Homo sapiens: one gene and its partners. The protein of the gene in region 3 purifies or fractionates together with the protein of the main gene of each other region. This does not show direct contact. Each region holds a gene or a part of one and is shown on either strand. Other genes may lie near its edges.

What was found. Proteins that work in one complex are often made in the same cells at the same time.
Region 1: the proteins of CDK12 (region 3) and C2CD5 purify together in Homo sapiens (affinity purification with mass spectrometry, with the first as the bait; one large-scale study listed by BioGRID). This does not show direct contact.
Region 2: the proteins of CDK12 (region 3) and PIP4K2B purify together in Homo sapiens (affinity purification with mass spectrometry, with the first as the bait; one large-scale study listed by BioGRID). This does not show direct contact.
Region 4: the proteins of CDK12 (region 3) and TMEM94 purify together in Homo sapiens (affinity purification with mass spectrometry, with the first as the bait; one large-scale study listed by BioGRID). This does not show direct contact.

The regions. Positions count from the first base shown.
Region 1 is NC_000012.12:22,538,043-22,541,542, forward strand, and holds part of C2CD5 (C2 domain-containing protein 5), read right to left. Parts: intron 1-3,500. UniProt on the Homo sapiens protein: Required for insulin-stimulated glucose transport and glucose transporter SLC2A4/GLUT4 translocation from intracellular glucose storage vesicle (GSV) to the plasma membrane (PM) in adipocytes.
Region 2 is NC_000017.11:38,775,557-38,779,056, forward strand, and holds part of PIP4K2B (phosphatidylinositol 5-phosphate 4-kinase type-2 beta), read right to left. Parts: intron 2,817-3,500; coding exon 2,778-2,816; intron 2,245-2,777; coding exon 2,131-2,244; intron 1-2,130. UniProt on the Homo sapiens protein: Participates in the biosynthesis of phosphatidylinositol 4,5-bisphosphate. Preferentially utilizes GTP, rather than ATP, for PI(5)P phosphorylation and its activity reflects changes in direct proportion to the physiological GTP concentration.
Region 3 is NC_000017.11:39,464,486-39,467,985, reverse strand, and holds part of CDK12 (cyclin-dependent kinase 12), read right to left. Parts: intron 1-3,500. UniProt on the Homo sapiens protein: Cyclin-dependent kinase that phosphorylates the C-terminal domain (CTD) of the large subunit of RNA polymerase II (POLR2A), thereby acting as a key regulator of transcription elongation.
Region 4 is NC_000017.11:75,491,135-75,494,634, reverse strand, and holds part of TMEM94 (transmembrane protein 94), read right to left. Parts: coding exon 3,482-3,500; intron 3,333-3,481; coding exon 3,180-3,332; coding exon of another isoform or gene 3,168-3,179; intron 2,945-3,167; coding exon 2,735-2,944; intron 2,162-2,734; coding exon 1,846-2,161; intron 1,707-1,845; coding exon 1,533-1,706; coding exon of another isoform or gene 1,503-1,532; intron 1,145-1,502; coding exon 1,042-1,144; intron 937-1,041; coding exon 719-936; intron 9-718; coding exon 1-8. UniProt on the Homo sapiens protein: Could function in the uptake of Mg(2+) from the cytosol into the endoplasmic reticulum and regulate intracellular Mg(2+) homeostasis.

The DNA.
Region 1 (3,500 bases), on a different chromosome or scaffold from region 3:
TGATCAGTTAATCAAATAACTTGGTTAAATTAGAGGATCACTAAAAATAATACAAACTGTAAACATTTTAAGATAAAACATATAAACAAACATTCATTCCTGTCTTTTAATGTAAGGCTAAGACCTCTTCTTTGTGTAAAAGTCAACTGTTTAGTCATCTTTTTTTGCATAAGCCACATTCATCTCTGATTTCCAGTTTGGGTTGCTTTAAAAAGTACGAACAAAGAATCCTCTATTTTTTACAGTCTTTTCTCCACCTAATTCAAGAGCTATTTTTAGTAACCATTTCCATGTCTTTACATTCACTCATTTATATAAGGTTTAAATAAAATATAGTAAGAAATACAGTTGACATAAGCAGATTTGGGAATAAACACAACTGCCTCTTGGTAAAGTATATCAGCCAACTGATGGGAAACTCCAGACACACTGGAGAGTAGTCTTACCCAGAGGAGTATTTACGAATACGCTTTATGGAAGGATGCAGAACGCTGAGGATTGCAATGAGTCACTTAACGGAGGTTGTTAAGACAGCTTCAACTGTATTGACCTCTCCTCCTAATTTTTGGACTACTCAGTAATCTGTATCCCCCTTTCCTAGCCAGATTTATTTCCCACTTCTATTCAACAAGAATCTTCCTTTCAATCACATATGAATGAAATTCATTCAATTGAAATACATTCAATTACATCAATACATACTCTGTTCTTTTGCTTTTATCAAGTTTGTCCTAGTCACCTGAAAATTTTTTCTTCCTTTTTCTCTCTGCCTTTGTAAATTTTACCATCCTCCAGGCCCAGGATAAAGGTTTCTCATGACAAGCCCACGCTTCATTATCTCCCTCTTCTATGAACTTAAGTCTGTATCAAGCATTTATCCCTTTATTATATTGTAATCCTTCATTATCCCCCTTTTCCTGCATTAATTTTTCCCCTTTCTACTGGATTATTCCTATTAGCACACAAATAGGTTCTGTATCTTTTCATTTATTTTTTAAGTACTAAAACTACTTCTCAAACACCACAGTATTTTTCCTCCCCCCTTCATAGCCATACATCTTGAAACAGTTGCCTATTCATACTCTTTCTACTTCCTCACTTCCCATGTACTTTCTCTTTAAATCACTACAGGATGGGATTCCACCCTCATCATGCCTCTTGTCACAACCCCCATGTTGTCCAATCCAATAATTTTTCTGTCTTCTTACTTGACCTCAGTGACATCTGACAATTGAGCTTCCTTCCTCTTTCTAGAAACTTCCTCTCTTGCCTTCTAAGACATTATGTTCCCCATTTTTCTCCCACCCACTGGCTCACAATCTCAGTTTCCTTCCTCTAGTCCTCCTCTTCTAATAAACCTCTTAATATCAAGTTTTTTCAAGGATTCATCCTGTTTCTCTCCCTTCCCCTAAGTCACAGGTTTGCAAAAAAGACAGAACCAACTCCTAAAGCTTTGCAAAAAAGACAGAACCAACTCCAACTCCTAAAGAAGCTTTAGACATTTCTAGCAGTGGTTTTGGGGAAAATAGTAATTGCATTAAGTGAGGAAGGGCCAGAGATGCCAGGTATTCTTCAATGCAAGAGAGTTCCCAACAATGAAGACTTTTACCATGTCATGATTTTCAAATGTGCCACTAGATAATCACATGGGTAAGAAACCTACCTAGAAGACCAGGTGTGGTGGCTCATGCCTGTAATCCCCGCACTTTGGGAGGCCAATGTGGGTGGATCACCTGAGGTCAGGTGTTCAAGACCAGTCTGGGCAACATGGTGAAACCCTGTCTCTACAAAAATACAAAAAATTAGCCAGGCATGGTGGTGCACTGGTAGTCCCAGCTACTCAGGAGGCTGAGGCAGGAGAATCGCTTGAACCTGAGAGGCAGAGTTTACAGTGAGCTGAGATCACGCCATTGCACTCCAACCTGGGCAACAAGAGCGAAGCTCCGTCTCAAAAAAAAAAAAAAAAAAGAGAAAAAAAACCCTACCTAGAACCTCAGTTTTACAGATAGAAGTATTACAATCGGGTTTCAATGTACATAATTGTCAAGAACTACAACCATCATGTAAATCAAGAGGCAACTCTGCTTTTTCCCATGAGTTGACTATTTTGAAAAATCAGATAACCAATGGCAATGAAGATCTGAGATGCCAAAACTACACAACTGTCTCACTCTGTTTGAGAAGCAGTCACATTCACGTGGTTTTAACATAGGCGAGGCACTCCCTATTCTGTGTCCCAGCTTTATTTTCTCCATATATTATTCTTAAGTAATTTTTGGTATATGCTAAAATCTAGAGAAAACTAGACCATCCAGCATACTGTATCTTTTACTTACTTACCTTATTTATGAACTCTCTCCTCCCACTAAAATGTAAGTTCCGTGAATGAAGTTTTTTTAAATTTATTGCTATATCCCCAGCATCCAGTACAGTGTCTAATACATACAAAGGCTGAATTCATTGATTCATCTGATTACTTCATGTTTTCTATTATGGTCATGAAAAAGTACTTCCATATTAAAATAATAACAACAGGCCAGGCGCGGTGGCTCACATCTGTAATCCCAGCACTTTGGGAGACCAAGGCAGGTGGATCACCTGAGGTCAGGAGTTCAAGACCAGCCTGGCCAACATGGCGAAACCCCGTCGCTACTAAAAATACAAAAATTAGCTGGGCGCGGAGGCAAGCACCTGTAATCCCAGCTACTCTGGAGGCTGAGGCAGGACAATCGCTTGAACCCAGGTGACGGAAGTTGCAGTGAGCCAAGATCGTGCCACTACACTCCAGCCTGGGTGAAAGAGCAAGACTCTATCTCAAAAAAATAATAATGATAACAACAAAAACAAATACTTCTATTTGTTATAGTTAAACCGTGGTACTGATTTTTTAATTGTAAGGATATATTAACTAAAAAATATCATGCCAGGATAGAAAGGGTAGATTCCAAAATACCAGCTATCTAAAGGGAGTCCTGGGTCTCACAGTTGAGAAACACTGGCTTGTGTGCTCATTTTTAACTCAGACCTCTTTTTTTTGAATGCCATAGTCATAAATCACTTCCTTAACATCTCCAATTAAAGACCCTAAAGACATCACAAACCTAACATGCTCAAATGGAAAATGATCCTCCTCAATCTTTACCATCCCCCTGGAGTATCAGAAAACCCAATACTTCAGAAAGCTAGGAGTCATCTTTTAATCTATCTTCAAAATATACCTGGAATTCATCCACTTGTCCGCATTACCAAATCCATCACCTTGGATAACATTACCTGTTATTTGAACTATTATAGAATCTCCTAACTGCCTGATTTCTACTCTTTCCCCTTCAATCCATTCTCCATATAACAGTGCTCATCTTAACAAGGGCTTCTCAATGAATTTAGGGTAAAATTCAAACTCTTAATCATGGCCTTAGTCCTTGCAAGACTGGTTCTTTGATTAACTCTCCAACTTTATCTTATACTACTCTTCCCTTCACTGACTACGTGCCAGCCAC
Region 2 (3,500 bases), 690 kb from region 3:
TTAAAAAGAAAGAAATTCTGGCCAGGTGTGGTGGCTCACGCCTGTAATCCCAGCACTCTGGGAGGCCGAGGCAGGCAGATCACGAGGTCAGGAGATCGAAACCATCCTGGTCAACATGGTGAAACCCCGTCTCCACTAAAAAAATACAAAAATTAGCTGGGCGTGGCAGCACGCGCCTGTAGTCCCAGCTACTTGGGAGGCTGAAGCAGGAGAATCGCTTGAACCCGGGAGGCGGAGGTTGCAGTGAGCCGAGATCGCACCACTGCACTCCAGCCTGGCAACAGAGCGAGACTCTGTCTCAAAACAAATAAATAAATAATAAAAAGAAAAAAATTCTGACACATGATACAGTATGGATGAACCCTGAAGACATTATGCTAAGCAAAATAACAGAGTCACAAAAGGACAACTGCTGTTTGCTTCCTTTTTTTTTTTTTATTTTTTGAGATGGAGTTTCATTCATAACATGTTGCCCAAGCTGGAGGGTCACCGCAACCTCCGCCTCCTGGGTTCAAGCGATTCTCTTGCCTCAGCCTCCCAAGTAGCTGGGATTACAGGCGTGCACCACCATGCCCGGCTAATTTTGTATTTTCAGTAGAGACTGGGTTTCTCCATGTTGGTCAGGCTGGTCTCAAACTCCTGACCTCAGAAGATCCGCCCACCTCAGCCTCCCAAAGTGCTGGGATTACAGGCATGAGCCACCTCGCTTGGCTGTTTGCTTCCTCTTATGTGAAGTTCCTAGAGTAGTCAACTTCATAGGGGCAGAAAATTGAACACTGATTGCCAGGGGTTAGGGAGGGGGAATTGGGAATTAGTATTTAATGGGTATAGAGTTTCAGCTGGGAAAGATAAAAGTTCAGAGATGAATGGTAGTGCTGGTTGCATAACAATGTGAATATACTTAATGCCACTCAACTATATATCAAAATGGTTAAGGTGCGTGCCTATAGTCCCAGCTACTTGGGAGGCTGAGGTAGGAGAATCACTTGAACCCAGGAGGCGGAGGTTGCAGTGAGCCGAGATCGTGCCACTGCACTGCACTCCAGCCTGGGGACAGAACGAGAATCTCCTAAAAAAAAACAAAACAAACAAACAAACAAAAAAAACACCTATTATTATATGTATTTTACCACAATTAAAAAAAATTTTTTTTCCCAAGTTTGTTTGTAGGATTTGGTTTTAACGAGCAGCCTCTCAATTTATTAAAAGAGAAGGAGACGCTGAGTTATCAAGTGGTCCAGATAACATTTTCACTATTTAGCACCTGTCCTCCCCAGATTACAAACAGAAGTTTGCTAGGTAAGTGGAGAATCAGAGCCAGAGCCAGAGAAGAACCTGATTAGTGGATTTTTGTTTTTTGAGACAGGGTCTTGCTCTGTCACCCAGGCTGGAGCACAGTGGCATGATCACAGCTCATGTTGCCTTGATCTGCCAGGCTCCAGTGATCCTCCTGCCTCACCCTTCCAAGGTGCTGGGATTACAAGAGTAAGCCACCATGCTTAGCCAACTTTTTCGGTTTTTGTTTTGAGACAATGTCTTGCTCTGTTGCCCAGGCTGGAGTGTAGTGGTGAGACCACAGCTCACTGCAGCCTCATCTCCCGGGCTCAAACAATCCTTTCGCCTCAGCCTCCCAAGTAGCTGGGACTACAGGTGTGTGCCCCTACGCCTGGCTAAATTTTTTAATTTTTAGTAGAGATGAGGTCTTGCTATGTTGCCTAGGCTGGTATTGAACTGCTGAGCTCAAGCGATCCTCCCACCTCAGCCTCCCAAAATGTTGGGGTTACAGGACCTTAATAGCTGGGTTCCTACAGCTCTGATGGCCAGATGCCCTCTCCATTGTAGGGACAACAGCAGAAGGGAGTTTGAAAAAGGTGTTGGAATGAATTAGTGAAAAGGGAAAAGCATTCTAAACTAAATTACAAAGGTCCTACTGGCGCCAACTATGCTCCGTCAGGTGGAATGATCATTTGCACTTGCTTTAGGTGCCCATAAGTGCCCACGCTGCTCAAATCACCACCCTTTTGTCCATACTCCTGGAAAGTACTGAATTCCATTCTTCTTAAGGTTTAAGAGGCGCCTACTCTAGGTACAGAAGGAGCCTTGCAGGTGAAAATGAAGGTTAGTAAGTACCTCAACGTCCCGCTTCAGTTTCTCCAGGAAGTTCTTTTTACTCTCCTCTCCCACATGCAGCTTCTGCCCTTCATTGAGGAAGTCATTGTCTTTGAATGTTGGCAAGTCCTTGGCCTAGGAGAGCAACAGCAGTTAGGCTGGGTAAGCCTGATTAATTCACCCCAGGGACACCCAACTGTTCTGCCGGGAGCAACTATACAGAAAGGGGAAGGAGGGGTTGTCAGTGTACCGACCCTCAACCTGCTAAATCAGCAGTGCAGGAGCCTCTAGTCCCAGGCTTTGGGTGGGCAGGGAGGGCAAACACATGAAAGATGAGGAATGACTAAAGGATTCTTTCCTGTTGAGCCTGGACCAGCTCAGGGCTCAGGCAGCCACTGACTGACTCAGGCTGGACTATGAGATAGAAATGTCTGCCATCCCAGCAGGACTATGAAGAACGTAGTGAGGGCAGAGGTAAAAGACCAGAGACCAAGGTCTAGGCCTAGCACAAGGACAGACAGGTGATTCATGACACACGGCATTTCATGTTGACAGACGGCATGTCTGGGAGCTGGGCTAGGGGCTGGGGTGGGCGAGGGACAGGATGGCCGACAGGAGTTGTTTCTGACTCCAAGCGACCCTTCCATTCCTGCTCAGCACCAGCATACCTTCTCCTTGTCGCTCGCTTCTCTGGCAACCGTAGAACCCTGAAAGGATAAGAGCCATCAGGGGAAGTCAAGCTGAGGCAAAGTCGACTGCATGAGCAAACATGGGAGAGCCAGCAGGTGAACTCAAGTAGGCTTGTTAGAGTCCTAGAGGGGCCAGGAGGCAGCACCTTGTTCATTTACTGTGTCAAGCCCACTTATAGAGCTCTATGTGCAAGACACTTTTTAGGTGCTCAGCAAACAGGACTGCACTGGAGAAGCTCAGTCCCTGCCCTTGAGCTACTTTCCTTCTAACAGGGGAGACAGATATTCAGCAGTGGTTCCACAAGTCATTAGTTCATTCACTACCACGGTGCTCAGTGGTACAGGGAGGAGCAGGACACTCTGAAAGCACATACCACACGGGCCCGGCCTGGGGAGGGACAGTGGCCAGGGCCTACCTACTTCCTGGAAGTAGTATTTGGGCTGAGCTCAGAAGGGTAAGGAGGAAGCAATTAGGTGGGGGAAGGAGTGGGTGGAGAGAGAGAAGGAGACTATTCCAGACAGCAGATGTGAAATCCTGGGAAGAGGAGCACAGGCACTGCAGGAACACAGAGGAAACCAGCCCAGTTGCAGCACAGAGGGAAGGGATGGCGGCATAAGGTGACAGAAGTCAGAAGCCAGGTTCAAGAACACGGAGCACCCTAGTTCACAGCCACAAGTGTGTCCTTCTCAGAGTCTAGAGAT
Region 3 (3,500 bases):
GGAGGCGGAGGTTGCAGTAAGCCAAGATCACGCCACTGCACTCCAGCCTGGGTGACAGAGAGACACTCCATCTCAAAAAAAAAAACAAAACTAAAAATATTGTTGGAATCAATAGGACTAAAAAACAACAACGCAAACATGAACATGAGAATATAAAATACTGAAAGGTACTGATATTGACCAAATATGCACTTACCCTTAAGAAAACTAACATTCCTTCTGTACATATTTGGCTGAAACAAGAGTTTTTCTCTGCTTGAAATACAGCTAAGTAACATCTCTATCCCAGGGAAAACATGTAAAACCCAAAACACTAATGCCAGCTAGCTACCAAGTACTACTGTTTTAGTCAGCATGACCAAATCTTCCTAAGGAAGTCTGTTAGAAACCCTTCAATTTCTCACAGAAGCCTACTGTTAACAGATTTGGATGGCCATATACTTGTGGTATTTTTAGTGATACAAATGCTACATTTAAGTTCCAGGTTCACTCTTCTAGAAAAAAGCGGAGGAGTAGACAACAAATAGGTAAACACAGCCAGCAATAAGCAATGTGTCTTCAAGAAATGTCTTCAAAAACAAATGTATTTCCCCCCCACTCACCGAATTAAGTTAGGTTCCACTCAACTATTAATCATTGCTAATCTAGCGGATGCAAAGACACTGCATTTCTGCCAAAGCATTTTCAGTCTTTTAAAATTAGGTTGTTTCGCCGGGCATGGTGGCTCATGCCTGTAATCCCAGCGCTTTGGGAGGCTGAGGCAGGCAGATCCTGAGGTCAAGAGATCAAGACCATCCTGGCCAACATGGTGAAACCCCGTCTCTACTAAAAATACAAAAATTAGCTGGGCATGGTGACGCGCGCCTGTAGTCCCAGCTACTTGGGAGGCTGAGGCAGGAGAATCGCTTGAACCTGGGAGGCGGAGGTTGCAGTGAGCTGAGATCGCACCACTGCACTCCAGCCTGGCGACAGAAACTCTGTCTCAAATTAAAAAAATAAAATAAAATAAAATAAAATAAAATGTTGCTTATTTCATTTTGACTGTCTCCCAAGGAAAAAAACACAAGAGAATATCATAGAAGGGATCTATATGTTCCTCTGACTCTACAAAATTTTTGTACTGTTTAGAATTTCAATCAATGAAGAAAAACATGTAATGCACACATACAAACATATAATGCTCTCTATAAGCCAACTAAAAGCGTGCATGTGTCTCTGGGAATATTATATGTTTATATTTGCATGCTACGCTACCATATTGTGTCTCCAATTTTTTCTAAACTTATTTTTACCATTACTGACTAAATTATGTGAGTAGAGATTCATCTGCTTTTTTTTTTTTTTTTTTTTTTTTTTTTTTTTTTTTTTTTCAGATAGAGTTTCACTCTTGTTGCCCAGGATGGAGTGCAATTATTGCAATCGCGGCTCACCTCAACCTCCTCCTCCTGGGTTCAAGCAATTCTCCTGCCTCAGCCTCCCAAGTAGCTGGGATTACAGGCATGTGACACCACGCCCAGCTAATTTTGTATTTTTAGTAGAGAAAGGGTTTCTCCATGTTGGTCAGGCTGGTCTCGAACTCCCGACCTCAGGTGATCCGCCTGCCTCAGCCTCCCAAAGTGCTAGGATTACAGGCGTGATCCACTGCGCCTGGCCTTTTTCTTTCTTTTTTTTTTTTTTTGAGACGCAGTCTCATTCTGTCGCCCAGGCTGGAGTGCAGTGGCGTGACTTTGGCTCACTATAACCTCTGCCTCCCAGGTTCAAGCGATTCTCCTGCCTCAGCCTCCCGAGTAGCTGGGATTATAGGTGCATGCCACCACGCCTGGCTAATTTTTGTATTTTTAGTAGGGACGGGGTTTCACCACGCTGGCCAGGCTGGTCTCAAACTCCTGACCTCAGGAGATCTGCCCGCCTTGGCCTCCCAAAGTGCTTGGGATTATAGGCATAAGCCACCACGCCCAGCCTCCTCTACTCTCTTAAGAGAACATGAGATATGCTGTTTTACCTAAGAATCCAAAAGGAATCACTAGAAAGAAGCACTTCTTACTGAAACTCCTTTTAGTGTTTTAGTCTTAGCACACTCTTCTCTATTCCCATACCCTAAAGTTAACAATTTTTACAGCCTTAATGAACTACTCTATCAAGAAACAAATATCCTAAGAATACTTTTTAGACTTCCTTAAAACACTAAGCAGCATGGCTGTGCGCATTGGCTCACGCCTGTAATCCCAGCACTTTAGGAGGCCGAGGCTGGCGGATCACCTGAGGTCAGGAGTTGGAGACCAACCTGGCCAACATGGTAAAGCCCTGTCTCTACTAAAAAAACACAAAAATTAGCCAGATGTGATGGTGGGCGCTTGTAATTCCAGCTACTCTCAGGAGGCTGAGGCAGGAGAATAGCTTGAACCCGAGAGGCAGAGGTTGCAGTGAACCGAGATCGCTCCACTGCACTCCAGCCTGGGCAACAAAACAAGACTCTGTCTCAAAAAAAAACAAAAAACAAAGCAGCTTTACAAATGCTACACTTAAGACTTAGGCATTTTACTGTATATAAATTTTACTCCTCACCCCTCCAAAAAAAAAAAAAGGGTAATCCAGCTAATGGTAAACATGTTAAAGTGTTTAGAATGAAGTATACTGATGTCTACAACTTACTTTGAAATAAATGAAAATAAAAGATAGATTAATGGACAGGTAGATAGATTACAAAATACATGGCTTTTTTTTTTTTTTTTTTAAGACTGAGTCTTACTCTGTCTCTGTCACCTAGGCTGGAGTGCAATGGCACGATCTCAGCTCACTGCAACCTCTGCCTCCCGGGCTCAACTGATTCTCCTGCCTCAGCCTTCCGAGTAGCTGGGACTACAGGCGCACGCCACCACACCCAACTAATTTTTTATATTTTTATAGAGACAGCATTTCACCACATTGGCCACGCTGGTCTCAAACTCCCTACCTCGTGATCCGCCCACCTCGGCCTCCCAAAGTGCTGAGATTACAGGTGTGAGCCACTCCTGGCCCAATTTTTTTTTTTTTTGAGACAGGGTCTCACTCTGTTGCTCAGGCTGGAGTGCAGTGGTGTGATCACAGCTCACTGCAGCCTTGACTTCCTAGGCTCAAGCAATCCTCCCACCTCAGCCTCCCAGGCAGTGGGGACTACAGATGTGCACCACCGCGACCAGCTAATTTTTTTTTTTTTCCTGTAGAGAACGGGGCCTCACTATGTTGCCCAGCCTGGATACAGCAAATATTTATTGTAGAATCTTGCTGTTACATATATGGGTGTTCACTACAACCTTTCTGTGCTGGAAAATTTTTTATAATAAAATGGAGGAGGAAACATTAAGAACTCCAGCCCTTGACAGCTAGGAACACTCTGCAGCTTGATGTACTCACACCATTTATGAATTGTAACTTTAAGTCAGCAAAAATTACACTGAAATACAAAAGCCATGCATGAGCCAGGCGTGGTGGCTCATGCCTGTAATCCCAGCACTTTGGGA
Region 4 (3,500 bases), about 36 Mb from region 3:
GATCCCTTCTTCAGGCAGGACACACAGGACACAGCCCGATCAGGACACCCAGGAACCAGCCCAGGGCCACACACACAGATGCCACACCCAAATCAATGAGCATATGGGCCCCAGGGGACCACACACAGCCAAGACACACGAAGGAGCCGACAGACACAGGAGAAAAGACAGTGAAAGGTATGCATCAGTCAGGTAGCCGAATCTGAGCTGGAAGCTACAACAAGGCGTGGCTTCAGCTCCTGCCCAGGGGGTACTGGCCCTACCCTCAGCAACTGTTTCAATTCACAGTCTCTTGGGTTCAAAAAACCTGGGAAGTGTGCGTGTCTGGTGGGAATGGGGTGGCGTGGTGGAGCTTCTGGGCCCCTCTGCACCAGCAGGGTGACAGACCTGATCTCCTGTCTGATCCTACTAAGCCTAATGCTCTAGGAACGCTGCTTGGTAACTTCCCAGGAAAGCATTCTGATACACGTAACCCACTTGAGCATCACAACCAACCAGTGAGGCAGGCCAAGTGAGCACCCACTGATAAGGGAGGAAACTAAGGGACTCCCCATGTCCCCGGATAGAGTGCCACACTGGCGTCCCAGCCTGGGGCTGTGGCCACTGCCCCCTTTGCTGTGGGGGGTGCCGGGGCCCTCCAGACGCCCTCCCTGCTCCTGGGCTTCGGCAGCCCAGGGGAGCCCCAGCACCAGCCCCGCTGGACAGACCCATGAGGTACCGTCAGAGCTCCAGCTGCTGCGGCGGGCGTTCTGCTTGATGGGGATGGTGCTGGGCAGCTCGCACATGGTGAAGATGCTGCTTTGGCCGGGCACCTGTACCAGCTCGATGCACTTGCCATTGAGCTGAGAGGACAGGGCGCAGTTCATGGGCTTGTAGGCGAAGGCAGAGCAATACCCAGACAGGCAGGCTCGCTGGTAGAAGTCCAGCACTTTCTTTCTGCCAGGGAAGCAGGCGGAGGTGAGGTGAGTGTTCCTGCCTGTGAAGGGCAGGTGCCCCGGCAGCGCGACTGCTCTTGCTGCTGGCATGTGCTTCCTCACCCACCTGTCAGATCCCGAGAGAGGGTAGATGTCAGCTCCGTCCCAGAAGTCTGTGCAGGCCTCTAAGACCACATCAGCGGTGCCATGGGACAGCATCTGCTCTGTGCCTGGGGGAGAGAGTTCAAACCCTGAGTGTCGCTAACCAGCCCCCTCACGCTGACCTGACAGGCAACGCACTGTCCTCCTGGAGAAGGGCGCTGAGGAGCCCCTGCCAGAGGAGGAGACTCCCTGGGACTCACGGACAGCAAGGCTCTGCAATGCCACTGGGCTTGGAATGCAGACACCATATTCCCATCCTTTGGACAATCCCGGCCTCTGCAGCCAACACCATCCCAGCCCTGGTCCCCAATTCCAGCCCTGCCAGAGTGGAACACTTGGAAGCAGTCTACTTTTCATCTGCCCAGGCCTCCCTAGCAATGGGTGGGGCTGGGCAGAGCCCCCCTGCCAAGCTCTGGAAGGTCTCGCCTGGTGCTGGCCAACGTAGCCAGGGCTCACTGGTGGTGGTGTCTTTAATGAAGAGGCTGATCATGTGGCTGAGGGGAGGCCGCCGCTTGGTGACACAGGAGAGCCGCCCCAGCGATGTCTCCTTCATTGTCTCGGCACTGGGGAGGCGGTACAGCGCCAGATGGTTCTCCTGCTTGAAAAGCTCCTTGGCCCCAGGAGTGAAGCCTGCAGGGCGGGGAACAGGAACTTAGGGCCATGCCCTGGCAATACCCTGCCAGGTCCATTAAGTCCCGTGAGGAGTTGGTACTGGGCCTCTTCTAGGAGGCGGGTCCAGCCAGCCATCCCCTGCCATGGGGACCTGTACCAATGAGGCGGGCAAGCTCGCAGAGGCCCCAGGGCACATGGACGGGCAGCACGGCGCTGTGGCTCTCTTGCAGGGCGATGTTGCACAGGTGGTCGGAGAATCGGCACAGGCGCTCGGTGACGCTGGCATCACACAGGTTCAGCAGCACATTGAGGCCCAGGGGTTTGAGGGAGGTGAGGTGCAGCTGCCAGTTGGAGTCATCAAACTGGATGCAGGAGGGGTTCTGCTGGTCCTGGGACAGGCTCAGCATCTCCAGGTGGTAGTCACACACAAAGTCCTCTGCTTCGTAGGGGTCGCTCTCCATCCCAGGCTGGGTCTGGGGGAAATGTGGAGGAGAGCCTCAGCCCGGGATAGGGTGTGGGGAAGCCAGCACTGGCTCTGCCCACCTCCCAAGGCTGGGGAGGGCTCCTGCCCCTGAAAGGCACCCTTCCCAGGAGAGAGCTGCTGCTCACCCTCTTCCACCCGCTCCCTCCTGAAATCCGCTTCCTGTCCTTCTTGGGCTCCTGTCTGCTTCTATGGACTATTAATATATCTCATGACACTGGCAGGAGCTAAAAAGAGGGGTGGCCAGACCAAAGAGGACACAGTTGAGGGATCTTCTGTGGCCAGGGAACATCTCTAAGAGGGAGCTCCGGGCTGTGTATATTTGGAAGGTTCCAGTAGGGACACCAGTGATTGCGATTACAAGAATGGAAGGGTAGGGGGAGGCTCCACCTACTTCGCAGCAGACTTGGGGAGGGCCTCAGGGACCACTGGCCTAGCCTGGAGGTGCTGGGACAGAGGGCAGAGACGCCTGCTCTTTCAGACCTTGTGAGGCCAGGCTGGCCAGGGAGGCCAGGACAGCCTGTGGCCGAGGGTGTGGCTGCCCCGTGCCACCCCCTCCCGTCACCTTGCTGGGCTCTTCTTCACCACCCTCGGTGTCCCTGCTGAAGCTCACGTTGGAGCCAGATGGGTGTTTGCTGCGGCCATGCGCTTTGTGGTGTGAATAGGGCTCGGGGGGCTTGGGAGCCTCGCCAGGCCAGTCGCCACGCTCCTGCTCATTGGAAAGGTGCAGGGTGTTGTTCAGGGAGCCAGCCAGGAGGGCGTCTCGTTCATGGGGCTGAAGAGAATGAGGAGCACAGGCTAGGACCAGTGGCTCCCATGGCCTGGGGAGGCAGGATGCTTCTAGGTCCCCTGGCTGCCTTGTCTTCACCTCACCTGCCCAGAAGCAGATCCTAATGGTGCCCAAACCCTCCTTCGCCCTCCGAAACCTCACCCTCCCTGGCCAGGCTCCAAGGCTAAACAGCCTGGCCCAGAGTCGGGCCCATGGGAGCCGGCCGTACCTCCTCCTCTACCTCGGGATGGCAGAAGGAGCGGGTGGATAGGCCATCGGTGAGGTCCTCATGGCTGCTGTGAGGGGGCTCCACCTTCCCGCTGAAGAACAGTACAGTCTCTGGGCTGGGATTTGGCCATGACAGGATCCCCTGTTTGTCCACACAGCACAGGACCTGCATGGAAAGCATTTGAGATAGGAAAGGGGCCTGGCATTAGCCTATCCTGCCCAGGGGCCACTCAAGCGGCAGGTGGGCAGCCCAGGCCCAGCCAGAGAGCAGGGCGGGCATGACAGTTGCCTCCTCCCCGCAAGGCCCACCCTCACCGTGACAGAGCCCAGGCTG